Linked DNA regions of Homo sapiens. The protein of the gene in region 4 interacts with the protein of the main gene of each other region in a pairwise test. Each region holds a gene or a part of one and is shown on either strand. Other genes may lie near its edges.

Region 1 (7,108 bases), about 120 Mb from region 4:
GTGATACCTACTAAAAGCTGACATACATGGGGCCTATGAAACAGGAATATGACTCTGAAGAATGTACACAACAGAAAAACACATACGTGAACCAAAAGATTTGAACGAACTGAGACTTTAAACAAAATGATTCATTTTTTAAAAACTGCCCCAAAAGTAATAGCATGGAATTTATTTCTAAATGACTAATTTTCTTGCATGGAGTGGGACTTTCATTAGATTATCAAAGGAGATTTTTCCCAAAGAAGAGTCATAAATAGGTATATAAACGATTAAGAACCTTTGCTGGAAGGAGGTAAGTTTCTGAACTATAAAAGTCTAGTCAGCCAGTAACGTGAAACTCAATAACTTACATAAAAACATCTACCACAACTGTCCATGGACACTTCATAGAAGAAAAGTAATACATAACAATACCTTGAGTAATGAACCCTTTGAGAATGAAGCTCCTTTAAAATGAAGTTATCACATTAAAATGAAGTCATTATATTAAAATGAAAACAGAACAATTCATAAATCAGGTGAAGCTGGGTTAGTGTGATCTTTTCCTCCAATTCGCATTACCCAGCTGTCCAGGATACAAATCATCCCTTTACACACCGTTTCTCTATCTTTAAATAAGGAAAGGTAAGAAGGTCACCGATTTACAAAATCCTAAATTTAGTAAGCTTCCTACTTTAAGCCCCTCGCCACTCATTTCCACAGCCATTTCCCCAGGGTAGAGCAACTGCTCCCTCTTTATGAACCTACCTTTCTGTTCCTAGTCTCCTTTATCAACATGGTAGGCAACAGCTTATTGAATATACTTTATAGACTTGTGCATGCACATTTTAGTCACTATTTTTCAGCCAATAAATTACTTCAACTAAACATTTACATTTCTAGACAGAGATAATTTTAGGTACTGTCAAATGGGAGATAACTAGAAAAAGAGAAAGTCATCCTGAAATCACATTATACAAAACACTGGCCAAGAAGGTAAACCCTATTTAATATCCTTTAGACTGACTGGGGGTAGATGGACACACGGAAGCCTAAAAGGGATTTCCCAAGATAAGCCTTTACTTTCCTGAAAAACATGAAGTGAGGACTACTCTGGCTTTAACCGCAAAAAATGTATTCTTGGATTTTGCCACTGGCCAATATAGTAGGTCTGAGCTTCTTTCGGGTTCCAGACCCATCTATCGTAACACAATTCTTCTAGGGATACCTTCTTCCCAGTAACTTTAATGTAAATTCTATGTCTTTCCAGACTTCCTTTAGTCCTTCCAGATGTATATTCCATTTTCCCAGTGCAAGTAATTCTGTTTTACGTAACACTTTATGATATCTTCTCACCTTTCCTTTTTCTGACATTTTGGAAAACATTTCAGTGTCTCTTACATGATTTCTACCTCTGATAATGGAATTTCTGACAACAAAGTTATGTCTCTCTTCAGTACCAGTGAATAAATATTTTGAAGAGTAATACAAGCAGAGCTCGTGAACGAGGTAAGTGATAGGAGACAGAAAAATAAAGGGATTTAAAATTGGGATTATCACAGAATAAAATTACAGCTACTGCTCTACATTCTCACAAAGGGCTTTACTAAGTCTACTATAAAATTCAAAAGCCTTAAAAACAAGACATTAAAAGAAGCCAATCTATTACTTATGTACATTTTAACACCTTACTTTCATTAATGAAAAATACTTTTAAAAATTTAACATTTTCAACTTATAGCACTGATCAAAGGCAAACTAAGGAAAAAAGGAGATACCACTCAGCTTGCAGCATAGATTCAATAATAAAGAAGCTCTCAATATTCCTTTCTAGCTTCCTTCCTTGTCTACAAGTCAGATCTGCGCAATTGAACTTGTGGGAGAGGTTGTGAAAATAGTGTACTCTAGCAGTTTAGGATTTTCAACATCGCTCAATCTCATTGCTGTTAGAGGTCATTAAAACAATGCCTCCCAATAGAATGTCACTGGACCAGAGTGATTTTTGTTTAGAATGAAGCAACTACACTGACTCTAATAACAGTCAATGGCTAAGAGTTTGTGACATAGCACATAATGCTCGATATTATCTAAAAACACGTATCAAAAACAAAAAAGTAAAGATGAGAAAAACAGTTTATGAAACTGCAAAAGATATTAGGGAAATACTTCTCTAAGAGATAGGAGAAAGGTCTGAGAAAGGCAAAGCATCGAGAAAGCTGGGCGGGAGTGGGGAGGAGTAAGGGACAAGTAAAGAGTTCAACGGGACTGCTGTGTTCACACATAAAATTAAAAGGTCTGCAGATAATTCGGGAAAAAAACAGTCTAGCATGGCCATAATTCCAGAGTAAAAGAGAATAACAACTTCAAGATTAACTTGTTACAGTGAGGGAAAAATCTGTAGCCTTCAATAAAGGTGGAGAAATATTTGAAAAGCTGGGGAAATGCCAACAAGGAAAACACGAACTGCTGTCCTGTCTTCCTTATAGTCAGGAGCCGTTTGTATCCTCACCCCAGAGGATCCAATAGGAATCAGTAAGCCTATAACTTTCCAACCCTAAGTCACAACCTAATTCTGATAGGATGAGCTACCACGATACTTCCCACTTCGTTGTGACTAAAAGCATATACTAGTTGGGTATATAAGCAAGGCTCCCCTCCCGCCATTTGATTTAAAAGAATGAAAAGGCGGATCTGGTCATTCGTCTCCGCCCGGGGTCTCTGTAAGGACGGCGGAGAGAGGCGACCTCCGCCCAATACCAGGCGCAGCCTTGCCGTCTCCTCGGGGCTCACCAAGCAGCCACCAGCAAAGAAGCCGGTTTCAAAGGCCCAGCACGACAGGGAGAGGAAAACGGAGCATATGCAACCATACACAGTCACCAGAGTCCAGCCTCCCGCAACCAGTCGCTACAGCCAGGCGCCTGCGCCCAGAAGCGCTTCTCGCGCCGACCGTTTGTATTTGGAATTGTGGGTTCCTGCCCGCCACGCACCACCGCAAGACCTTCAAAGCTGGGAGCTTCTCTGTGCTCCAGGATTCCTCGCTGCCGATTCCACACCGCGTTCAAGACTCCTGTGAAGAGCGACTCCGCTGAGAGCCTCCTCAATGGCCAGTCCACTTCTAACTTGCAGCTGAGAAGTTTTTCTGATCTTGATGGTCAGAGTGGCTCGTGCTACGAAGTGAGAAACAAGGAATCTATAGCGAATCGTAAACAACAGAAATAAAAATGCGTCTCCGTTAAGAGTCGGAGCCTAACGTCACTTCCGGCAACAATAGGAAACGTCAAAATTGGGATAGTCGGCAGTTCTGGCCCCTGCAGCTGGAGGTACCCTGAGTTCTGAGGGTCGTAGTGCTGTTTCTGGTATTCTCATCGCGGTCACCTCTACCGGTGTGGACAAGTAAAGTTTGAATCAGCTTCTCCATGGCCTGGGCACCAGTTCCCGGCTGAGCCATTTTCCTTTTGGCTAAAAGTCCCCGCCCAGAGGCCAATTCGTCGCGGCGGCGGTGGAGATCGCAGGTCGCTCAGGTACAGGAGTCAACCTAGATATTTTAGATCTCTTGTCTCTTTTCCCTGTTCACCTTCACTTTTCTCGAAAATAAAGACAACCAGTGCTTGCCAGTTGGCCGAAACTGGCCGACCAGCAAGAGTTTGCGACCAATGACAGTGCGAAGCATCTTGAGTGACAGTAGTGGTGGCTCATTAAAGTGAGGAATCACTGTCAGGAGGCGGAACTGGGTGTGTTCCTTCTGTTTCTAGGCCATTGGGGTGTAGTTCGGTTTAGGACTCCAAGTAGTAACCCAGCGTCATTGTGAAATAAACCTGAGAAATGACAAGGGTTACTTTCTTCAGGTCCAAGTGTTGGTTTTCGGGTCGAGTGTTATTTTGGTTCCTAGACAGTTTTTGGTTCTTTACCACTTTCCAGTAATATGAATGCAAACACAAGTATAGTTAAGATCACGATGGATTGCTAGCTGCTACAGTAGTCAAACTTGGGTTATAAAACTTGTCAAACTTGTCTTTTATTTGTTTCTCAGCGACTGGGTTCTAATCTCTTACGTAGAAGGTTCTCAATATTTATTTGGCAAAATCACATAAATGGATCCCAATCCTCAGTCATTTAATTTTTTTAGTTTTATTTTTAGGTTCTGTATGAATTTACTAATAAAATAATTGATTCTACTTGTTTTACAAGTAAAATATTCATTTTCAAGGCTCCTAGGTGTATATCCACAAATGAATATATCATGATTTTTATTACGGTAAAGTGAAGACAATTTATGTTTTCTATTTCAGCTTTCCTCTTCCTTCTTTTAATGTTTGAAGTAATGTATTTCTGAGGTAGGAGCTCTACACACTTCTCAACTCTACCCTTCACGAAAATGATATGTGAAACAGAGTAGGTTTCAGAATAAAGAATGCATAAGTTTTATTATTTTTTTCATATTGGGTCAGAAATTCATCTTTAGCCAATTAACCTGACAATATGTCTGATGAGGTACTTCATTAGTTGTCTATTGCTGGGTAACAAATTACCCCCAAATTTACCCCAGCTTAAAACAACAAATATTATCAGTTTCTGTACATCAGGAATTAGGGTGCAGCGTAACTTCATTTAATAATAAGTTACAGCAAATTAACTAATATTACTTGGGGCCCTTGGATCAATTACTTCCATCCACAAAATATTATAGTAACTTCTAGATAAGCCAAAACATTGATCATAATTTATTACATATGGTCACTTTAATGGGGAATGTTTTGTGTGTTTACTGTTGCTAGGTTAAAAGATATCTTCCTCATTTTACAATATAAAAACATTGAATTACCAAATCTTTAATCACAGTGTGTTGAAATTAGTCATTCAGATTTGTAACTTTATGGTTTATTATTTAACCAACTGCTAATGTACAACTAATTTTTTCCTCATTTTGATTCAGATTTGGAAACTGGCACTATTCCATTGACTGACCCATGATAATGCATCAAAATCATTAATACTAAAGTCTAAGAATTATGCATTTAATTTCTGTTTCTTTTTCTTGAATTATTTTACTTAAATAATTTTTTAAACAATTTAAATGAAATACATCTATTTCTGGAAATTTATGTTCACTATTTCTTTTTCGTTTTGCTCTCATTGTTTTGTTTTTCTGACAAATTTCTTGACTTAGCTCTCTAATAAACTAAAACATTTTTGGCTGACTTGAATAAATTTATATCATATTTGGGGCAAGTATTTTTTTGAGACAGATTTTTATTCTGTTGCCCAGGCTGGAGTGCAGTGGTGCGAACAAGACTCACTGTAGCCTTGACCTCCTAGGTTCAAGCAATTCTCCCTCCCACCTCAGCCTTCAGAGTACCTGGGACCACAGGCACACGCCATCACGTGTGGTTATTTCTTTTAATTTTTTTGTCTGACTGTGCTGCCCAGGCTGGTCTTGAAGTCCTGAGCTCAAGCGATCCTCCTTCCACAGCCTCCCAAGGTTCAGGAATCATAGGTGTGAGCCACTGTGCTGGTGCAAGTACTTTATAGCAATATAAGATAAAAATATTTGTGGTTTGGAGTTTAGGCAACAGCTTTAGGGAGTTTAACCATTTAGTCAGCAGTTCGTGTATTTTTCAAGAATAGATTGCATAGGATTCATAAGCTATTTGAATGAAGGAACCAGATTTTAGCAAGTAAGCCAAGCTTGGAGAGACTCTATATGGAGTAGTGATTTGTGGAAGTCATGAATATAGGGAAAAAAGAGATGGAAAGGACAGATGTTAAATACACACACACGCACGCCATCATCTCTTCTTTTATTTATTAATTTGTTTTTCAGAGTTTTTTCCCTCATTTTATTTTTATGGGATCACAGAATTGTTTCTTCCAATTTTTAAATTGTAGTAAAATATACGTAACATAAAATTTACCATCTTAACCATTCTAAGTGTACAGTTCAATGGTATTAATTACATTGATAATGTTGTGCCACCATCAACACCATCTATCTTCATTACTCTTTTTATCTTGTAAAACTGAAACTCTATACCTATTAAACAATAATTCCCCTTCCCCATTCCTAGGTCCTAGCAATCACCATTCTACCTTTTGTTTCCAGTTTTGGAAACCGGAAGTGTTTGTATTCATATTACTGGAAAGTGGTAAAGAACCAAAACCTCATATAAATGGGCTTATCCAGTATTTGACTTTTTTTGACTGGCTTATTTAACTTGGCATAATGTCCTCAAGGTTCATCTTTGTTGTAGCATATGCCAGAATTTCTCTTCTTTTTAAGGTCACATAACATTCCCTTATATGTGTCAGCCACATTTTGCTTATCCATTCATCTGTTATTGGACACCTGGGTTGCTTCCATGTTTTAGCTGTTGTGAATAATGCTGCTATGAACATGGGTGAACAAATATCTTTTCCAGACCCTGCTTTGAATTCTTGAGGGTATATACCTGAAAGTGGAATTGCTAGATCACATGGTAATTCTGTTTTTAATTTTTTTTTAGGAAGCTCCATATTGTTTCCGCAGAGGCTGTACCATACGTATTACATTCACATTAACAATACATAAGGGTTCCAGTTTCTCCACATCCTTGCCAAGACTTATTTTTTTTTCGATAGTAACTATCTTAATGGGTATAAGGTGGTCCCTCATTGTACTTTTGATTTGTATTTCCCTAATGATTAGTGATGTTGACTGTATTTTCCTGTGCTTATTGGACGTTAGTGTATTTTCTCTGGAAAAATGTCTTTTCAAGTCCTTTACCCATTTTTGAATCATGTTTTTGTTATTGTTGAGTTAAAGGAGTTATCTGTAAATTATAGATATTAGATTTTATCAGATACATGATTTTCAAATATTTTCTCTCATTCGGTGGGTTGCCTTTTTACTCTGTTGATACTGTCTTTTGATGCACAATTTTTTTTTAATTTTCATAATGTTCAGTTGGTCTGTTTCCTCTTTTGTTGCTTGTGCATTTGGAAATCATTGCCAAATTCAGTGCTGTAAGCCTTTTGCCCTGTTGCCCTGTTTTTTCGTCTAAGAGTATTACAGTTTTATGTCTTAGATTTAAGTCTTTGATCCATTTTGAGTTAATTTTCATAGATAATGTTGGGTAAGGTTCCAACCTCA
Region 2 (7,586 bases), on a different chromosome or scaffold from region 4:
CCTTGCCCTGTGCACCCCCATGCGGGGATGAGGGAGGCTGGAGGAGGGAAGTGGAGGGCATCAGGCAGCTTTAGTGTCCTGGCAATCTCGGGGTGAGGTGGGGACAGGCCCTGGCAAGATATGGAAGTCTGCACCAAGCCCTCTTCAGCCCTGGGGACAGAGGTCAGTGGGCACTATGGGGGCGCTCGGCCAGGGAGCACCTGAGCCTGCCCTGGGACCTGGGGTTGTCTTTAGACTCAGCCCAGAGCAAAGAGGACCTGGGAGGTGCCTGCACCCCATACCATGTGACAGAGGCTGGGGTGGGGACCAGGGGCAGAAGGACCAGAGGGACCAGTGCCCACCCCTCCCCATAGCCTGGCTCTGAGCTGTGCTCCAGTCCACCGCCCTGGGGCCAGGCTCACCTGTGGCAGAGTTCCCCGAAGCCATCAAGGGGCTGCAGCACGCCGGTGGACGACTCCCCGTGGGTTAAGAACAGCAGCACTGGCTTGTGCTGGGCCAGGCCCTGAGGAAGCAGGGACGGCTGTGGGTGGAGCTCAGAGGGGCAGGGGCCAGAACACCCCCACAAACCCCCCATGGGTGGCACAGCTCCAGGTAGCAGGGGCTGGGCCTGCCTCTACTCCTCCCTGATGGTGTGCATGGGAGGAGGAGGCTGGGGCATCTCCGCTCCGGGACAAGGGCTTTTCCAAGAACAGGACTTTGGTGCAGAGATGGAGGAGGGTGCCCCCAGCCTGTTGCCTGGCCTGTGAGGGCTGTTGCTAGATGGACTGAGTCCCCACACTCCGGGTAGGCTGAGGTTGACTTCAGCCCACAGGGTGGGGTATCCTGAGTGTCAGGGACATGTTCTGCAGCCTAGACTCCAACTCGGCCTCCTGCCTCCAGCCTCTCTGGCCCTGCCTACAGGACCAGGCTCCTGACTCAGTTTCCCTGCCAGACAGAAGCCTCCTTACCAGTCTTCCCACCATTCCCAGGTAATGGAACCCTCCCCTGTGGCCGCTCACCAGATGCTAGGATGGGCTGAGGGTCAGCCACCAGCCTCCCGGCCATGATCCCACCCTGCTGGCTGGCCAATTCCAGGCAGCCCCTGAGCCAGCATGCCCACTCCCACCTCCTCCCGGCCCTGACCCCCACCCCGGGTCCCCTACCTCCTCCACCTCCTGCAGTGTGTAGTGGCCTCCAGGGTCCTTGGTCATCGGGTGCACTCGGGCTCCTGGGTGCAGGACAGAGTGGGCCGTGAGTGTCCCGCACACACTGTAGAAGCCAGTGTTGGGCACCCGTGGCCCTGCTGAGCAGGGCCCTGTGAGGGCTGGACCCCACCCACCGTGGCACCCTGGCTGCCTGCCTGAAGAGGAGGGTGGACTCTGCCCAATGAGAGCCTCTCTGTGTGTAGAGCCAGGGCCATCTTGACCCCCCTGCTGTTGGAGCCAACGCTCCTGGGGCACTCTTGACAGAGCTCAGCTCAAATGCCCTTTCTCAGGCCACACTGACCAGTGCCTCCCCAAGCAGAGAGTGAGCTCCCGGGAGTCAGGGCTGCACCTGGCCCAGGGCTGGCACAAAGAGTGTACCTGGTCCAGGGCTGGCACACCACAGGTGTGATGGATGACAGACTGAAGGATGAGGGGTGAGTGAGGCAGCAGCCTTGACCTCTGTTGGAGCTGGGGACTCCAGGAATCAGGCCCTCACCCCCTCCCTGTCTCTGCCCTATCCTGTGTGCTGTTCAGGGCCAGGTTGTGGGAGGGGAAGAACCTGCGGCCAAGGGGACAGAATGGGGAAAAGGGAAGCCATATACCACAGGCATCTGAGCCTGCGTGCCCTGATGTCCACTTGGGGTCCTGGCCTCTGCCGACCCTGGGTCCCCTTGAAAAGTTTGTGGACTTGGGGTTGGGACCCTCTTGGCTGTTGCGGTCGCGTATTAACCAGCATGGCCATTGTGGAGCTCACCAAGCTGATGTCCCTCAATGCCACAATCAATCATTAAACCCAGGGCACACTCCTGCTCCTGTGTCTCTCCCAGAAAAGTGTACTCCGGAGGCGAATACTCTGCCCATACCTCCATATTTTGTGTATCACATCAAGATTCCAGAAGGAAGGCTGCTGAGATTTGAGGGGAGGCTTCAGCTTCTGAAACCCCACCCTGTCACAAAGCAGAGCTGGTGCCTGGGGCCCTGGACAGCGGCCGGGGCTCTCAGGAGTGTGTGCTGGGACCAGAGGCTTCCCTGTAGTTCCGTCCTGCACATGCTCCAGAAACAGCTCAAGGAGACTGGGGGGATCGGGGCACCTGTGCTGCTCCCAGCCCTATCAGAGTCAGGCCTCATGAGTGCCCGACACCGCCTGGAGGAGGCAGTGGGCTGGCAGGAGGTTCGTGCGCACAGGGCCACAAGGTGGGTAAGCGCTCACCCAGGAACGGGGGCTGCCAGCTTCAAACAGAGGGAGGCCAGGGAGGCCTTGAAGGATGGATCCAGGGCCATCCCCACCTGGGCCTCTCCCTTACCTATGCGCTCCCCGATGTCCACGGCTCGCTGCCCCCAAATGCCATTGGCCCCAACCAGGAAGGAGTCCCCAGGCTCCAGCACATTGACCAGGGCGGCCTCCAGGGCACAGTGTCCCGAGCCAGAGATGACCAGTGTGAGTGGGTTCCTGGTCTGGAACACGTACTGGATGCCTTCCTTGATCTCGTCCATGATCTGCATGCGGGTGGTATAGGGTGAGACCCAGGCTCCCCGCCTCCCCAAGTGAGGAGGCAGTGACCCCCTTCCCTCGTCCACGATCTGTGGGTGGGAACATGGGTGAGACCCAGGCCCCCCGAGTGACCCCCACTCCTACCTGGTACATATCCTTGCTCATGGACCCGATCATCTGCAGCCCCCCGGCTGCCATGATGCGAGGAGGCAGGTTGGAAGGACCAGGCCCCAGCAGGAGCTGGTTGGGGATGGAGAGGGGCTTGAGCAGGGCCTTGGGGGGGGTCACCAGCAGCTTGTGAGAGGCCATGGTCCGCACCCAACCTGCCGCTCGGGAACCTGGGGCTGCACTGGCCTTGGCCAAAGCCTGGAATATTTCCCAGCAGGGCGGACACAGAGGTGAGAGGTGAGGATTGGTGGATGGGCTTCCGTGGCAGCCCTGCCTTTTGTTCCCTGAGGCTTATCTGTGCTTGTGCTGCGGGTCACGGCCAGGCAGCAGGGGACGAAGCCCTCAGGCAGAGGGAGCCCCCAGGGCTGAGTGACAGAAAAACAGAGTGTGACAAAGCTGTCCTCACCCCAGCCCTCCTCGCTCCCACTCTGAGTCCTGCACGTCCAGCCCCTCTTATTCTGCTTAGCTCAGGGGTGAGAGAAGTGTTTCTTAAAGGGTCGGAGCACAGATAATTGAGGCTTGGCAGGCCCTGTGGTCTATGTTGCAACAACTCAACCCTGCTGCGTGCTTGCAAAGCAGCTGCCAGAGGTGTGGGCGTGTTCCTATAAAACTTTATTTACAAAAAGCAGGTGGCAGGCCAGATTGGGCCCATGGACTGTGGTTTGCTGACCCTGGCGCAGCTGATGGGAAGGCTTGTAAACCAAAAATAAAATTCGAAGGCCCCCCAGCAACCATCTGAATGGGGTTCCCTGTCCGCCAGGGTGCTCTAAACTTTAACCCGGAAGACGTTCAGGCCATGCCACATCATAACCCCCAGCATTAACATCGACATAGACCTTAAGTCTGATAGGAAGCATTTACCATCTATTTTCTCTCTAAATCCCGCTACCTGAAGGCATCATCTGCTCCCTGCAACCCCTATTTCATAACCCAGACACTCCTTTCTGCTGATAATAATTCTTCAGTCAGTTGCCAATCAAAATATGTTTAAATCTACCTATGACCTGGAAGCCCCCCAATTCAAGTTGTCCCGCCCTTCCAGATGGAACCAATGTAAATCTCCCATGTATTGATTGATGCCTCATATCTCCCTAAAATGTATAAAAGCAAGCTGTGCCCCGACCACCTTGGGCCCTTGTGGTCAGGGGTGCACCCTTGAGCTTGGCAAGGATGTCCTCCCTCCTGAGGCTGTACCACGGGTGCATCCTTAGCCTTGGCAACAAAAACTTTCTAAATTAATTGAGACCTGTTTGAGGTACTTTTTGGTTTACAGGCTCAATTTAGCAAGCAAACCTGCATGGTATACAGACACACACAAGGCAGGGGTTGCACAGTGAGTTTCAGCATGCTGCATTCCAGAGATGTATAGAAATTCTAGTTATGTATAAGTTTTAGGTTGAAAAGAGGCCTGGAACCAGGTGCCAACTTTAGATAATAGGGAAGTCTAATTCATTCTACATTTCTCAAATAAAGAGGCTCCCCTCCACCCACCCCACCTGGGGCCTGCTTGATGGTCTCCAGGTGATCTTTGCTGTCCTCATTTTCCCTCTGACAAATATCTTGGTGAAATCTTTGACCCTTCCTTTTCTGCCATGCTCATGTCCACCTGCTTCCTGTTGGGGTCTCAAGAAAGGGGAAACGGCACAGTGAAGAGGGGTGTCCAGTGCGCCTGACTACTTGCTGCTGAAAGGGAGTTCAGGGGGGTAGGTCACGTTTTTCCCTTTCTTGCTCTCGGTCATGAAGGGAATAAAGGGTCATGAAAACTTGTGCACGGAGGCACGTGATGGGATTCCATCAAGAAGCCCCACGTAAATGGGAGCTGCAGTTGCAGGCCGGTATTTCCATCAAGAAGCCCCATGTAAATCGAGCTGCAGTTGCAGGCCAGTGTTGGGAATGCATAGCCTTCTGCAGGTGGAATTGTTCTCATGTAGAACATAGAAAAGCAATCAGAGCATTAAAAAGGCAGGGACCAAATATTAAAAGAAAAATGACAGAAGATAAAGGTCTAAGGAATGGGGGAAGCCAAGTGATTTTTTGAAAACCAATCAGTAAAAGTTTTGGCCCAGTCTTGGTTGCTTTGGGAAAGTGTGTGTAGCCATTTGGCTTGTTTGATGATTTCTTGGGCATCGGTTTCCACTTCTCCAGACACATAAATGTAGGTGCAACGGGTCCTGTTGATGACAGCACAGACCCCTCCTTGTTCAGCTAGGAGGTAATCCAGAACTCACCTGTTACCAGACACCAAAATCCTGCTTGTGAGTCTAATGACTTGTAGAGCTGATAGATGGGTGCCAGCTTTTGCTATTTCAAGGGAGGCGGTAGGTTCTCTTACTTGTGATTTCCTGGTAAGTAAAACCTCCCCAAGGGGTAAGAGTTGTGATAGTTCCCACAACTCCGGCCACAGTAAGTCCCAGGGCCCTTTTCCTTCTAGAAGGGAATTCTGAATTAGAAGTGATGTTTAAGACAGTGATTTGGGTGGGAGCTATTGTTCCCAGGCTACAATCACCATAGTGAAGAGAATGATCAAGGTGGGATAGGGCCAAAGCTTGAAAAGGGTTTAAATAGTTTTTAGTGGGGCTGCTAAGCCATAAGAGCCCAGGAGGGGCAGGATGATTATTTTAATTAAAATGTTGGGAAAAAAGGAAATGGGCCTTTTGACAGTTTTAAGAGGACTCATATGGGGGAAAGACTATGTTTATGTACTGATGGAGGAGGTTTAAAAGCAGGCGGGTGCCAGTGCATGGCATAGGATGTAAACCAGGTGGCACGGTGGTTATTTCCTGCACTGGTTGCATCATTATAGTAACATACATGAAGGTATTAGGAGTGCAGGGGTGCTGTATACTGGGAGCCCCACTATACTGGTCCAGTTTAACGGCTTATAAATTGGCAGTGATGAGATAGAGTCAGATTTTTTTTTTTTTTTTTTTTGAGATGGAGTCTCACTCAGTTGCCCAGGCTGGAGTGAAGTGGTGTGACCTTGGCTCACTGCAACCTCTGCTCCTGGGTTCAAGCGATTCTCCTGCCTCAGCCTCCTGAGTAGCTGGGATTACAGGCACCTGCCACCACGCCCTGCTAATTTTTGTATTTTTAGTAGAGACAGGGTTTCACCATGTTGGTCAGACTGGTCTCGAACTCCTGACCTCAGGTGATCCACCCACCTCTACCTCCCAAAGTGTTAGGATTACAGGTGTGAGCCAGCGCACCTGGCCAGAGTCAGAGTTTTGATTGTAGGAGGCGAAGGCCTCAAATGAGTCAAAGTTAGCTGCATGAGTGTCATTATAACAAGGTGTACCTCCCAAAATAACATTACAAGTTAAGGAAGTTTCAGTGATATTGTAAGTGTGGATGGTGGGGGAAGTAATATGATAGCACGAAGAGGGAGGTGGTTTCCAATTTACCAGCACAGAAGGAAATGGTCGGGGTGGGAAGGAGTGGTGAGAAGAATAATGAAATCCCAACAGTACAGTTTGATTGGAGACAGGGTGTGCTTACGAAGAAGAATCTACATGGCTTGGAGTAGCAGGTTGTGGACGGCAAAGCCAGCCACACAGAGTATTTTCTCCTCTCACAATAGCATGTGAGATGCTGAAGATGATATTGTCAAACCAAGAGGATTGGGAAGTTTTTATATGAGAGATAAAGAGAAAAACATGAAAGAAAGAAAAAAGGAGTCTCATTGTTCTAATTCAAGGACTGTTACAAAAGTTGCTCCAAGTATAATTAGAAAAACCACCCTGCAAATAAAAATCTAGTGCAAGCTGAATAATTGTATGTGGGTCTTGAGAAATGGGGATTGGATAAAGAGACAGTAAATTGGCTGGGTGTGGTGGCTCATGCCTGTAATTCCAGCACTTTGGGAGGCTGAGACGGGCGGATCACCTGAGGTCAGAAGTGTGAGAACAGCCTGGCCAACATGGTGAAACCCTGTCTCTACTAAAAATACAAAAAAAAAAAAAAAAAAAAAAAAATAGCCGGGCATGGTGGTGCATGCCTGTAATCCCAGCTACTCAGGAGGTTGAGGCGGGAGAATCACTTGAACCCGGGAGATGGCGGTTGCAGTGAGCCGAGATCGCACCATTGCACTATAGCCTGGGTGACAAGAGCAAAACTCTGTCTCAAAAAAAAAAAAAAAAAAAAAGTAAGTGAATTGAGGATAATCTCAGAAAATTGGAGGACCTAAAAACGCTTCTAGAGTACATAAGGAAATGAATGACAAGGGAGGGAAAGGAAAGTGAATGATAAACACAGCAAAAGGCTTACGTGGTATCCTTTGCTTTTGAAGAGAGGTTAGTGTCACCTGGTTGTTTGCAAAACAAAAATCATAGATCTTCCAAGGGCTCAAAGTGTAAGCAGGCTGGAGTTCTGGCGGCAGTACAGACTTTATGTGGCAAAGGTGGACCCAAGGGGAGAATCCCTGCAGTTAACAGCTGTGGGAGAGGCTATGAGGACTTGAAAGGGTCCAGTCCAGAGGGCTGGAAGGGGTTTTCTGTCTGGAGGCAAAGTTTTTAAATATACCCAGTCCCCAGGTTAACAGGAGGTCTTAGTTCTGATGAGGAGGGGTCAGATTTTGGACAAAATTTATCCTGGTATTCAGTAGTGGCCTGGATAGTTTGCCCAGGGAGGCATCACATTGAGACAGATAATGAGCCTCTGGATCAAGTAATAAGTCCGTTTGTAAAAAGGGGCATCCATAAATAATTTCAAAAGGGCTAAGGTGGGTTGAAACCTTTGGGAATTAC
Region 3 (7,027 bases), on a different chromosome or scaffold from region 4:
TGCTCTGTGAATTTCATTAAGGCATTGTTTACTCCTAGATCATTAATGAAAGAGCTACACCAGGTCAGACTGAGCTCCAATAGCACCCTCCGGTGCCTCCTTCATCCTTCCCAGTTGCCTTTTCTCCTTCCCCTTTGTTTGTGCTTGTTACTCAGAAGCAGTGAATTCCTGCTGACAGCACCCGCCAATTTGAATTCCCAGGAAGATTTCAGGAGAGTCTCTGTTAAACAGTATGCAAACATACTACATATGACATCTTCTTTATCCTCTTTGCTGTTAACGTTGTAATTCTGTCAACATCAATCACATTTACCTTGTGAATTATCCTTTTACCTGTTAGTATTTATTAAAACCACCATTGACTTTGCCATGGTACCAGGGAGCTGAATTAATTTAAAATAATGATAATGAGACTCAGCCTTGTCATCTCATATGAAAATCAGTATCATATTTGGCTTTTCCTTCCAGAATCCTGGGTCCTCTCAACTTCACATGCTTTAATAGTACCTCAGATGGCTGAATGTTCTCTGATAGTAACCCTCAGTAATGTTGGCAAAGTTGGTGTTTAAGAAACTTGGTCAGCAGGCTTGGACTCTATCAGCAGTGTTTGGACATCTCTTCTGGGCTGTGGTAGCCACATTTTTCCAGGGGTGGAGAGACATCAGTGTGTGTCAGCTAAGCCTGGCTAGTTGCTGTTCAATCCCATCCCCAAACTCTTTGGATGGGAAACCACACCCCCAGTAATTCTATCCCAGAAGGTCCCACCCAGAGAGACCTGTTGCTACAAGTCCTGTAGCACTAGTAAGAGATTTTGGTCCTTTCACTTCCCCTTTTCCTTTTGCCCTTTGGCCTTTGCATTTTGCCTCCCTTCTTTCAATTGTCCCCTTCCCCCATGTTCTTCACTTGCCACCAGGTTGGTGATCTGACAAAGACACAGTTGTTGGCAGATTTCAGGCATTTTCCTTCCAGGACCACTTATATTTACCAAGGAGGGCACCAGACCTAATGCTAAGGAAGAATTCCAATCCACAGATGGGACTTCAGGCTTCTGTGAGGGCGATGTTCGTGCCCATGGCCCTTCCTGGATCCCTGTCACTAATGCATCATTGGGTTACAGCTATGAGCACATTTCCCCTGAGGACAGAGTCTCTTGGCACCTTTCTAGCACCCGACAGGAAGGCATGATGAGCCCATGACCAACTTATTCCCCTTCTGCATCAGCTTCATATCTCATTCCTCCATGAAGAAGCCAACCTTTTTCTTTCCTACCTACTGGATCTCTATGTGAGGGCATTTCCTAGAGACCAGAAAAGAGACAATCTTTTATTTTCATGGTCAGTTGCACCATGCTACACAGGCTGTACCTCCCAGGCTTAGGAGAACATTACTGGGGTGTTCTTGGGGCTTTGTATTGGCATAGACCTCTTGTCAAGGGCTAAAGGATATCAGGGCAGGTTAGCTTGGCCCATGAAACCAATCCAGTGATACCACTGGTCGAGGAGTCCTACTGAGAAGGAACTGGCTTCTAACATAGGCCAAGGAGGTCTGGAATCCTGGAACTGCATATGTTCGCTGAGCTCAGATGCTTAGTTTTTGGGTAGCCCTTTTGTAAAGAAATATACTCCACGTTGCATAGCGCTTTAGGCTGGGTATGTTTAAACCTTACCAGTAGAACTGACCATCTGTTTAGTCTTTATGACAGCTTGGCTACCACTTTCTTGTCCTCTGGCAACCCCAGGAAGTAGGCAGAGCAGCCATGTTTAGGCTTATTTTAGAGGTGACATTCTGAGAGGCAAAATGACTTTCTCAAGAGCAGTCAAAGGAAGGACTTTTGAGCCCAAAGTTACTGGAAATTTAGGGCGTTTACCCTCGTTGGATTATATATTCAAGATGATGAAAGGGACCACTAGCGTGCTTGTGTGCAGGGGGTGGTGGGAGCTTCCTCTAAGGGAGTACATGGATGAACCTAGGGGTTTGTGGAATTCACGTGAGGAAAACTCCATGCTTATAGATTTTACATCATACCATAACAGCTTTGCCCTGGGACTATTTTAAAGTCTTAAAATATGAATGGAAATGAGGATATAGCTTATCAAATACACTAACTATATTAAGGCAAAAGAAATGGCCATTTTTGTAGGCCAAAAATGGTAAAATGTTAACAGTTTCTTATGGTTCAACCTAGTATTTCCTCCCAATCTTTCAGTGTATTTTGGTTGATTCAGTTATTGCCAAGGACTCATTAAGCCTCCACCACATGTGAAATTTGCTTTCTAATTCCCAAGACTTGGGATGTCACAAAAACAAGGGATAGGTCACTGTGCTTAGATAATTGCAACTTACTCATATGGGGAGAGGACAGGCCTGGTTGTAAGAGAACCATTGCAAAGTAATGATATTAGCACATGCAAAATAAAATGTCTGAGCATTGTGAAGTGCTAGAATAAACATGGAGTTTGGAGTCAAATATCCTCATTTTAAACCCTGGTTCCACTCCTTTATCAGCTATGTAATCTTATGCAGAATCATGCCAGTTCTTTGGGTAAGATATTACATATGAATACAGAAATCAATTAGCATATAACCTGACACATTATAGTCACTCAGTGTTATTTTTTTTCTTGTTCTATATAATCTTTCTCTAAAGAAATGCTAAGCAATGTCTCTTCTAAAAGCCCTTCTTGTATGTCTGCAGCTCTTTATAAACAAAGAAAATGTTCCGAGTCTCCTTTTATTTCTGAACAACAAACCCTCTGAGAGAAGTAGGGCAGATGTTGGTGAGGTCGTTATAGAGGGTTGTACAGGTTGTGCCCTGCAGTAACAGTGAATAGCGCCTTTTAGAGTTGGGCATTTCAAAAATATATGGGTTGGCCCTGATTCATTCATGTCAACATCCACATTTTCTAGGAACTAAGGCACAGAAATGAAGTGACTTTGTAAAGGTCATGCACTCATATAGTGCAGAGCCAGAATTCTCTGGAGATGTTATCATTTCTAGTCCCCTATTCCCCACACCTTGCTGCCTGCGTTAATGCTTCCTGCATTTTGACTTCTCTCATTTGCATCAAGAAGTAATTGGTGCTATTCACTGATTCTTCAAATCAACTGGAAATTCCCTGAGGGCAGGGTCTGTGAGCTTGGAACACAGTACGTGCCAAATTAATGTTAGTTGATTCACTGACACTAATGTAGGGGAAAAATTGGTGCAATAACATCCTGAGTGGGTACATGACTAGGGTGAAGAATTTTCACAAGGCCAAGAGCTTTCCTTTAAGGATTAAATCCAGCTAGCTCTGATCAGAATCAGAGAAATGCTACAGGAAAAAACAAGTTTGTTCTGGATCAATGTTTTCCTGAAGTTCAATCATGATCCTTGTCATGTCTAAAAATGCCTGTATATTTAATATAGGTATGTTTTCCCATTACTCATTAAAATAAGTATATGACTACTGAAAAATTTTTAAATGTTCTAAGAAATTAAGCCATGAGGAAACACTGCACTTGACCACTTTCTTGGTCCTGTCTGAGGATAGGAGGAAAGATAATAGGACTCAGTCATTGGAGAAGAATTTGGTTTCCTGTTGAGAAAGTAAAGGGGACTTATTTGTCCATCAGCATTTCCTGGATTAGGTGCTGTGGGCATGGAACAAGAGAAGGCACAAAGCCTGCTTGGGAAGAGTTGGCCATTTAGGGGAGAGGACGAGATGCCAACTAGGTTGGTAAAAGAGGGCTGCTGGGGCCATAGTGGTGCCAATTTACAAATGCAAATCCACTGGACCAGAGACAGTTAGGCCAAGAGAGCACTTAGAGATAATGACTCTTACCCTTCATTTTACAGAAGTGGAAACTAAGGTCAGAAAGTGAGTGGATATGAGCAAGATCACCTGAATGTGTGAATAAAGACCAGGGCACAAACACCCAGGTTGTCCGTGGCTAGGGATCCACCATATGTTAAGGTTTTGTTTAGTGTATTTCTGTTGAGGGGATGACAGAATGTTCCTTGGGTACCCAGTGTGGAAGGTGGATGTAGAACACAGGCAGCTGAATGCCATGGGTTAAAAGCCATCATGGCCAAATATGGACAGGTAGAAAGCATCCATGATTCCTCTTTGGACCCTTAGTTGGATCAAGAAGATTGTCTCTCTGGCTGAAACAAAACGATCGTTAAAAAGAAATGAGAATTGGGGAAATTTGAACATGGGCTCAGTATTCGCAGATATTGAGGGATAATTGTTAAATGTTAAAGGGTGATAATGGTATTGTGATTCTGTTAAAGAGGCACATATTTATATATTTGTGGATAAGATGACACAATGTCACTTTGCTTTAAGATAACCTAGCGGTAGGGGAGTGGTTGTGGAATCAGGTTGAGGCCTGGTGAAACAAGTGTGGCCTTGATTTGATACTTGGTGAAGCTGAGTGATGGGTACATGGACATTTATTAGACTATTCTCTCTCTTTTTGTGTATGTTTGAAATTTTCCATCATATAAATTGAAGGAAAAGATATCATGTTCCCCAAAGTACTGCAGGACTTTTGATAAATCCATGGTGGTTTCCCATGTGTGTACTTCACACATAGAAGGTCAGGGAGCCAGAAGTGGGTTTGTGTCTTAGTGAAGGAGCTAGTGCTGGTTATTTAACATCTCTGAGTTTCAGTTTCTCCATCTGTAAAATAAGAATAGTAATAATATCTTACATGTCAGTGTGGTGAGGATAAAATGAATTTAGTAGGTAGAATGCTCAGCTCACGGCCTAGCATGAAATTGAGGCTTAATATTTGTTTCCTTCTTCCATTTTCTTCTCAGGACTGGGATGCACATGTTGACTAAAACCACATTTTTCCATGTTGATAGCTTCTGGAGTCAAATCCTGCTGAGATAAAGTATTAGTTCTAGTGCAAGGATGGAGAGAACCTCTTAAGATTCACTCCTGCCAGGCACGGTGGCTCATGCCTATAATCCTAGCACTTTGGGAGGCAGAGGCAGGCAGATCACAAGGTCAAGAGATCGAGACCATCCTGGCCAACATGATGAAACCCCGTCTCTACTAAAATACAAAAAATTAGCCAGGCGTGGTGGCACGCGCCTGTAGTCCCAGCTACTCTGGAGGCTGAGGCAGGAGAATTGCTTGAACCCGGAAGGCGGAGGTTGCAGTGAGCCGAAATCGTACCACTGCACTCCAGCCTGGGCGACAGAGTGAGACTCCGTCTCAAAACAACAACAACAACAACAACAAAAACCACCACCACAACAAAACATTCACGTCTTTGGCTTTGACCAGTCTTCCCAGAAATCCTGGATCTCAGGACCTTAAACCTATCAGAAAATGGTCTAGGTTATCCACAGTGAGGTTCATTCTGATCACAGACAGCTACAGGAGCCAATCTGCTTTCCCAGTTGAGAAATGTGAAAACCAGGGAGGCTGAACTTTTTTAAACTAAATAAAATTCCGCTTGCAGAATGCCCTCATACCCTTGCTATCTGGAAGATTGAGCGTATCCTTACAAAGTTAATGACATGTGCTTATTGCAAAGTTAATGGCATAGAACTGCATCTTCTATTTATCTAGCTCTTTAAGTTTTAAAGAATTCTAACCAACTTTATATACCATGCAAATTGTGTTTCTCTCTCTACATACACCCACACATATATATATAATGTAGTTAGCCTGACTTGTTTTTTATTTTCTCTATCTGTACGGTTGTGAAAGTAACCTAAGACATAAGGAATTGATATCTGGAGAGCATTTTGATATACTTGGATGAAGTACTTTTGGTGTATTTGGAAGTAGCTATCATGATCTGTTTACTTAAATTCATGGCTGCAATCATCACCTCTTCTCTAGTGTGCATTCTACTTGCTCACTTCTTTTTGAATACATCTTATAATTCTTGCATTAGTGAAATCTACTCTTCTTGATAATAATACCTTATGGTTCTTTGGCACTGTTGGTTTTAAAAATATTTTTGCATTCATTATCTCATTTAATCCTCACAACAGTGTTGTGAACTAAGCAGGGCACATATTATTTCTATTTTACAGGTATATTTCATTGACTTTTCAATGTTGGAAGGTGCCTTTAAGATCATGGAGCCCGACTCCCTCTTTTTCACTCGTGAAAAGTCTGGGTCTCAAAGAGGATAAGAGAGCTGTCTGGTTTCAAAGTGCCCATCAGTGACAAAATCAGGATGAGAATTCTTGTGACCTTTCAGTCTGTAATGCTGGTGCAACCCTCACTTAAGCAAATTGCCTATTCTACTTGACTTAGATCTGTCCTAACCACCTGCAGCCAGGAACACCTGAAGGAGCTGGTTAGAAATGCAGATTCCTGGGCCACACCCCAGTCTGAGTAAATCAGACTCACAATGGGAGGCTCAGAAATCTGCATTTAAAACTCACTGGAGTTATTTTTCTGTACTGGGATGTGTGAAAGCTACCAGCTCATTGGAGTTAAGCTCTGTGGATCTGAGCCCCGTTTTATGCTGTGGTCTTGAGGTCTATGGCCACCATCATGAATTCCTCAGGGTCCTTGACTGGCTTTATCACCACATGTTGAACGCTCATTGCTCAGTGATATGTCTGGGATGGGTTTTCTTTCTTTCCAAAATTATTAGTTAGACTCTGCTTTGAGTCTAGCATTGCATTAGAAGCTGGGGTGAATGTTTAAGGGGCTGCTAGCAGAAAAGACTCAAGGGTGGCTAAGAGTGAAGGATATGCCCAGATGGGCAAGAGAGAAGGCTGGGCTGACCAACGGCACCGCCATTTTGGACACAGCAATTTGGGTGGCTGTTTGGATGATTCATGCTGCTTCTCTGCTCATGCTAAGTGTGAGTACACATCTGTGGGTGGTGGCCCTTGAGAACAGTGTTTGTTCCTCCTTTAGGGTGACAGAATGTGCCAGAGCCCATGCTTAGTGCTTTTGTACATTGCCTTTTTTAATCCTAAAAATGTCTCTATGAGGCAAGGAGTAAATGCAATTATCCCAATTTGAAAATGTGGAAATTAAAGCTCAAATAACTTGCTCAA
Region 4 (7,027 bases):
AGAGTAGTCTGTTACTCCGCATGCCTAACTAGGAACTCCCTATACTTTGGCTAATTAGATCACAAGTGGGCATCTGCTTTAAGAACAGCTAATCCCTGGGCTGGGTAGCAGCACATGGAATGGCAAGGCCAAACAGTCCTGCCTAACTTAGATAACATTAACTAACTCAATCAGCTCTCTCTTGAGGTATCTGAACATAAGACAAATAGATGGTAACATGCAGAGCTGACAGAGAGAGGGCTTAAATTGAAGTCAAGATGTAGTAAAGCCATCGATAATTAGAAATCAAAATAAACTGAAGCCAATAGTAAGCAGAAACTGAGATCACCAGACAAGTAATGATGGGCCAGATCAGGGAGGGTCTGGTAGAACATTAAAAGGACTCTGAAGGAGATGGGGAACCTTTGAGGGGCCTGATACAGAGAAAAGACTTGAACTGACTTATGTTTTAAAAGGATCACTATAGCAGATGTACCAAAATGGTTGTATAAGAGGAGAGGCAAAGGTGGAAAGGTGGAGACAGGGGGAAGAAAAAAATATATATATATTTTTTGTAATTTAGATGGATTCTTGCTATGTTGCCCAGTGTAGTCTCAAACTCCTGGGCTCAAGTGATCTTTCTGCCTCAGCCTCCCGTGTAGCTGGGATTATAGGTACATGCCACCATAACTGACTTAAGAAATACATTAAGCGTAAGGCAGAAGGGAGACTGGCAATTCACTCCAGTCGTGTAGGTGGCAAAATAGGGCCAAATTTTGAAGACAGAGCCAAGATGTCAAGACAGAATGGATGTAGTGAAAGAGAAAGAGGAAAATCAAGAATACATCAAAAAGTTTTTGATCTAAACAAACAGGGTCCTCGATCTGCCATCAACTGAGAATGGAAGGCTGCCGTTGAAGCTGATTTGGGGTGTAGATTATGAATTCCATTTTGGATATTCTGGATTCTGAGACATTCCACCTGTACAAATCTATAGATACAGAGAATTTTTATGTTCCTACAGATATGACAAGACCTATGAGCATATGAACTAGAAATTTCAAACTGAACATATTGGTTATGCAGATGGCACATGAAGAGAGTGCTTATTTCCTAATGTTGAACTTTGAGCTCAATGAACTCAAATTTTTAGCTAGTTTTGGAGATAAAGTCATAACTATGGAAAAAAATTAACAGGCTTTGATGCATATAAATCATGCTTTAAGTTTATCTGGTTGATTCAACATACGTCTGAATATCAATGTAGCTCAAGGAGGATGGGATCTAATTGAAAGTATACTCTATTTATACAAAAGATACAGAGACCCTGGAGTTGGAGACGTATATTTGGGTTTCAGAATAATTCTAAAAATCTTAACTCTGTAACCACATTCTGAACAATATTTGAGTTCATCTGGTTTTATGAAAGTTTAATCTCATTCAGGAAACTAGTGAAATCAAAGACTTAATTCTCCAAAGCATGTGTTAAATTTACTCTATCATAAACCTCACCATTATACATAGTCTTATAATAATCTAGCATTAGCATTTTATCAATTTTTAATTATTAAGGTTATAATTTCCATTATTAACAGATTAAATATGTTGTTAAGCAGTGAAAGCTATATAAGTGTATACTGATGAAAATGCACAGTATAACTAACTTCTGGCGATATAGGGATGCAGCTGATCTAACTTAACAACTTTTAAATTTTCTGAACTACAGAAAAAAGATTTTTGTATATCTGATTTATACATATTTTAGAATATTCTTCATACTTCTATAAATCTTAAGAGCAAAATAATGATGCTAAATTATGTTCATTTAAGCAAAATATATGGTTGAATTGATTTACAATATAGACTAACAAAAATACTCATTTCAAGTAACATTTATAATTGAGCAGTTTAGAAAAGACCAAGAAAGGAGACTGGGTACATAGGAACTCCACCACTGAACTAACCAAGGCCCACATTATGACTACAATGCAAGATCAAAGAGAATAAAACAAGAAGTTCTTGCAGGAAGCTCACTATATATAGTACATTCACTTTTTTTATCAATCAAAATAACAAAGTTAGGTTACCTTCAAGTCCAACCAACTCTATCCTAAGTAGATAGTGGGAGAGAAAAAAAGCTTAAGAACAAAAAAATTATTCTTCAGGGACACTGTGAGAACATTTCAGCTCCTACGGATGCAACTGAGTTTTAAATGTAAGATATAAAAAACACAATTTTTTTCCTCAAATCTAATGAATCATGTACTGAGGGCTGTCACATACTACACACCTTACAGCTAAAGGATATCACATTTACGAGGGTTCCCACTTCAAAATCTATGATCTTGTGGGAAACACTCTCTACTTCTGGCATGTGCTATTCTCTTGGCATACTAGCTGCCCCAGCAGCAGAACAGAAAGTGCAGGTATGCCATCAAAATCACTCCCAGTGAACAGTAAGGGTAGCCAGTTATTTAACCTCAGCCTACACAAAGCTAAAATTAAAAAATAAACAGACCAAAACAAACATAAGAACTGAGGAATTAGACAGCAAAAGTGGCCACTGCTATGTATTTCCATACCTCATAGGAAAAGCTGTGAAATTTGATGGTTTACACACAGAACTGTAATAACTCCTTTAATCTAGAGATCAACACCCTAGCTGGGGCCACTATCATGTCTTATGGAAGCTGCTTCTATAACCTTCTAAATTTCATTCTAATTCCTTTACAATCCTTTCTGGCCCCTACTGAACCCTCCAACCTCATTTCAAGACATTATCCCCTTTGTTCACTATATTCTAGCCATAATATAGAGGTATCCTTTCAGTTCCTCAGGCAAGTCAAGCTTGTTTTGGCTTGGAGTCTTGGCACCTGCTGTTCTCCAGATCCAGGGGCTCCTGACAGGACTCTCATCCTTCCTAAATGTTAGCTTCCTCAGAGAGGTTCTTCCTAATCACATTATTTTCAATCACAGGATCTCATCCATTTCCTTCAGTGCAACTTTATCAGATAAAATTTGTCTATTAGCTGTAAACTCCATGAGGGCAGAAACTATGTGTGTTTCATTTTGGGTTTCATTATATACCCAGAGCTTTGTGCAATACCTGGCAGAAAAATGGGCATTTAACAAATACTCATTAAATTACTTATCAGGAAACCTCAACAAGACAGCTGATAATCAAAGATTAAGCAAAAAATACTCTGAGAAAACAAAATAAATATTGTAAAACCCAAGCATCAAAACCCAAGCATCTACATTCAACAATCAGGATGAACTTCTCTTACTTTATATGCAGTTCTAATAAGGCTGGTTGGTTGTTTTGCTTCCAAGAACAGCTGACCAATTACAAAGACAGAAGAAAGCAAACCAAAAAGAACAGCCCACATATGAAATTTAAATGAAAGTGCCATTTAGAGAAGGTTCTCAAACTCCAACATACCTCAGGGCCACTAAGGCATCACTGTGTATCAATCTGATAGCCGCTTTTGATTAAATGATTCCTCTAGTCAATTAGATAATTCTGAGCTATGCTCAGAATCTTGTTTTAAAGCAGAAAAGCATACTTCACATTTTAGACTGACTTCCCACAAAATGGTAAAGAATAACCAAAAAAATGTGCATGCAGGGTTAAACATCAAAATATGTCATAAGTAATAATTTATTGAATGCCTATTAATTAGATAAATTCTGACTCTCACACGTAACCTCTAAGGTGGATATTATCTCTTTCGCAGATGAAAAAACTGAAGTTCGGAAAGGTTAATCTGCTTATGGTTACTGTCAGGAAGTGACTGAGAATTGAAACCAATCTGCCTCATATCAAAGACCACACTTTTTCCACAGTACCATCTATTACTTTCCAAATATGTCTGATAGAATCACATAACACTCCTACCAAAAATAAAAATCCCTAGACTCTTCCCTTCCAGACCCAATATTCTGATTGGGTCAAAAGTCACATACACACATACACACACATACACACACACACACACACACACACACACACACACACAATCTTACACAGAAGATACCTGAAGGATACTTAAGAGCATCTGTTGCTACATGTTATATTTAAAGCTTAATTTTATTAATAAAATCTAAATAGCTTTATAGCAGATTAGAAACCTAAGCCAGACACAGCTATTAGAGATTTGAAAGATTTCTTTCTGAGTATACAGCTGGCCTAATATCCTGGGCCTTTAACCTGTTGACAGTATAAACTCCAGCTGGAATTCTGCTTTAGAGTAATATTATTTATTTAAATTATTTAGAATAGTATTTGATTAGTATCATAATAATTACATATAATTTACTTTTCACCATTTAATCCCTCTTTTCCACTTAGCTAGTCATATAAAATTTTAAGTACTAATCAATTTCATATCCCTTGGTAGGCAAAAATCCAACACTGAACTCTTTGGACCAAATGTCATATAAATTCTCAAATTCAAATACAGTAAAAACTTTGAAACCTCAGTTAATTATCATATTTCTCATTTCTTCAAGAAAATCTGTGCATTAAGAAGTTTTAGTAGTTGGTCCAAATAAAATGCATAGAATTTTTTCTTCACATTACCAAAGATATGTATTATATCAAATTACCAAATTATAATCAAATTAATTTCCTCTCAAACTATATGGAATAAGAAAAATCTCTGGGAAGCCACGCATGGTGGTTTATACATACAATCCCAGCATTTGTGGGGGCTGAGGCAGGAGGAACACTTGAAGCCAGGAGTTCAAAACCAGCCTGGCAATACAGTGAAGCCCCATCTCTACAAAAACCAAAAAACTAATTTTTTTAAAAAATTAGCTAGGCATAGCAGCGTGTACCTGTAGTTCTAGCTACTTCAGAGACTGAGAAAGGAGGATCACTAGAGCCAGGAGGTCAAGGCCACAGTAGGCTGTGATCAGGCCCCTGCCCACCAGCTTAGGTGACAGGGAAAGATTCTGTCTCTAAAAAAAGAAAACAAAAATCTCTGGAGAAAAAAAAAAAAGTTATAAAAAAAAAATCTACCTTAATTTGATAATTTCCTCACAATTACCAGATTTCATTTTTTAAAACAGAGGAGCTATTTATCTTTTCAGTGTGATAAGTATTCTATTATAGAACATTGTTTGCCTTTGTTCGGAGGTGCAGAGAAGAAAACAGTGATTCATTTGGCAATTCTGACAAAATCCAAAGATGTATACAATTACTTCATTCATTTAGAAAATATTATAGGAACTATAATATTCTGGACACTATATTAAATAGTAAAGAAAGATCAATAGACACAACCTCTGCCCTCAAGAACTTATAGCCTGTGGAGATACATCAATGAAGCCTTCAAAAATTTCAAAACAGAAAGCTTAATCTTTAGAAATAAATAGAATGTGTCTTAAATATTATGCTGGGTGGGAGAAAGAAGTAGGAATTATAAAGTTTAACAAAATTGTTTTATTGACATGATTCTGTAATTTGGCAACTCACATTCAGGTCTCTTACTGCTAACCACAGCATCTAGCAGCAGTCCTGAAATACTGACACATTTCAAGACAATTTTTTACTAACTCTACCATTTGAAAGATCAATAAACACTAAGGTGTTCTTGTGATGTCTCTTATTCAAAAGTCATATTCCATCCCAGTGTAGTTCCCAAACATTTTCAAGTCACATTTCTAAATCTTTAATCTTCCATAACATATCTGGAATGAAAACAAGCAAAAAGTGGTTTCCGACAGCCATTGATAAAAACTGGTGTTGAAGGATAAGGAATTATTTGTGGAGATGGTAAGATTACACCTCAGAAGAGAGTACATGAAGACACGGTAAAATTACAAGAGAATAACATTAGAAACAAACCTCAGCAAAATAACTTGGCTCTATGATAGGGCTTGAGTTAGAAGTCAAAGATTATACATACTCTAGGAAAGCCCCAAGTTTGATTCTGATACAAGAAGGGTAGAAAGTGGAGATGGGAGCAAATAATGTCTGTTATAATGACAGATTACCTAGGAAATATTGGCCTAAAACTACTTTTAAATTCTAACTTTTAGACTGACACATCCTTTAGAGTTACCACTGTGAAAAACGAAACTCTTCAATAAATGATCAACATATTTTGCAAATATATTTTGAAGCATAAGGAACTCCATAATTTTAAAATATTAACCAATCTGGTCAAGACTACCTAATAGTCTTTTTACAGTATTACTGTTTATTTTAGAAACTATTTTTCCTCATCGTCAATTATATGAGAAGTCACCATGAAAGCAAAAAGGAAATCTACTTTTAATTGAATGGTGACTGTAAGCCTTTTAGGTTACATGTACCTAAATACTATGCAATAACAGGAATTTATCATTTATTTTCCTTCCTTCCAATACCACTTTCCTCAAAATATGCTTCTGCACAAGATTTCCCCATATTGCTACCTAGAAATCTAACAATGAAGGGAAATATTATACTTAAACAGAAGAATGTCAGAAAAGAATACTGATCATGAGAGAAGTATAAAAAGTAAGTCTGATTTGGGGGTCACGATGAAAACATTTGTATTTAAAAAAAGGAAAATATTTGCATTAAAAGCCACTTTAAAGCAGACTTTAGGCAAATTAAACATGTTGCATCCTATGTCACAAAAATCTGATTATGCCTAGAGACTAACCTAGAGAATGGAAGGTAACTTTCTTTCTCACATCACCACAATGACATGCCAATCACGTCACGTGAGAATACCAGTTTCTAAAATAAACAGTAATACTGTAATATATTAAAGTAGAAAAAAAGAGCAGAAATAGTCAATTGTAAAGGGCTACTCAAAAGTTACATCTGTGAAAAACATATGGATTGATCTATATCCTTCTAGACTGATCTAGACTACAGATGATTCAGTTTACATGGTCAATTACTTTCAAATTGGTAAGGGAAGACTGCTCTGATCAGCACCTAATAAAAAAAAAAGGTGGAGGAGGGGGTGTTAAATTTAGCCAGTCTTACTACAACTGTTCTAATAGCTCTTCCCATTTATATTTAAAGCAAGAAAAATTGAATGTGCTC

Evidence for each region.
Region 1: the proteins of CHIC2 (region 4) and CEP44 interact in binary tests that used the Homo sapiens proteins (3 or more experiments, as listed by UniProt).
Region 2: the proteins of CHIC2 (region 4) and AGXT interact in binary tests that used the Homo sapiens proteins (3 or more experiments, as listed by UniProt).
Region 3: the proteins of CHIC2 (region 4) and CBY2 interact in binary tests that used the Homo sapiens proteins (3 or more experiments, as listed by UniProt).

Annotation. Positions count from the first base shown.
Region 1 is NC_000004.12:174,279,805-174,286,912, reverse strand, and holds the start of CEP44 (centrosomal protein of 44 kDa), read right to left. Parts: upstream 3,003-7,108; 5' UTR 2,970-3,002; exon of another isoform or gene 2,773-2,969; intron 1-2,772. UniProt on the Homo sapiens protein: Centriole-enriched microtubule-binding protein involved in centriole biogenesis. In collaboration with CEP295 and POC1B, is required for the centriole-to-centrosome conversion by ensuring the formation of bona fide centriole wall.
Region 2 is NC_000002.12:240,864,265-240,871,850, reverse strand, and holds the start of AGXT (alanine--glyoxylate aminotransferase), read right to left. Parts: upstream 3,028-7,586; 5' UTR 2,986-3,027; coding exon 2,821-2,985; intron 2,682-2,820; coding exon 2,489-2,681; intron 1,208-2,488; coding exon 1,143-1,207; intron 503-1,142; coding exon 402-502; intron 1-401. UniProt on the Homo sapiens protein: Peroxisomal aminotransferase that catalyzes the transamination of glyoxylate to glycine and contributes to the glyoxylate detoxification.
Region 3 is NC_000013.11:45,705,311-45,712,337, forward strand, and holds part of CBY2 (protein chibby homolog 2), read left to right. Parts: intron 1-7,027.
Region 4 is NC_000004.12:54,054,599-54,061,625, forward strand, and holds part of CHIC2 (cysteine-rich hydrophobic domain-containing protein 2), read right to left. Parts: intron 1-7,027.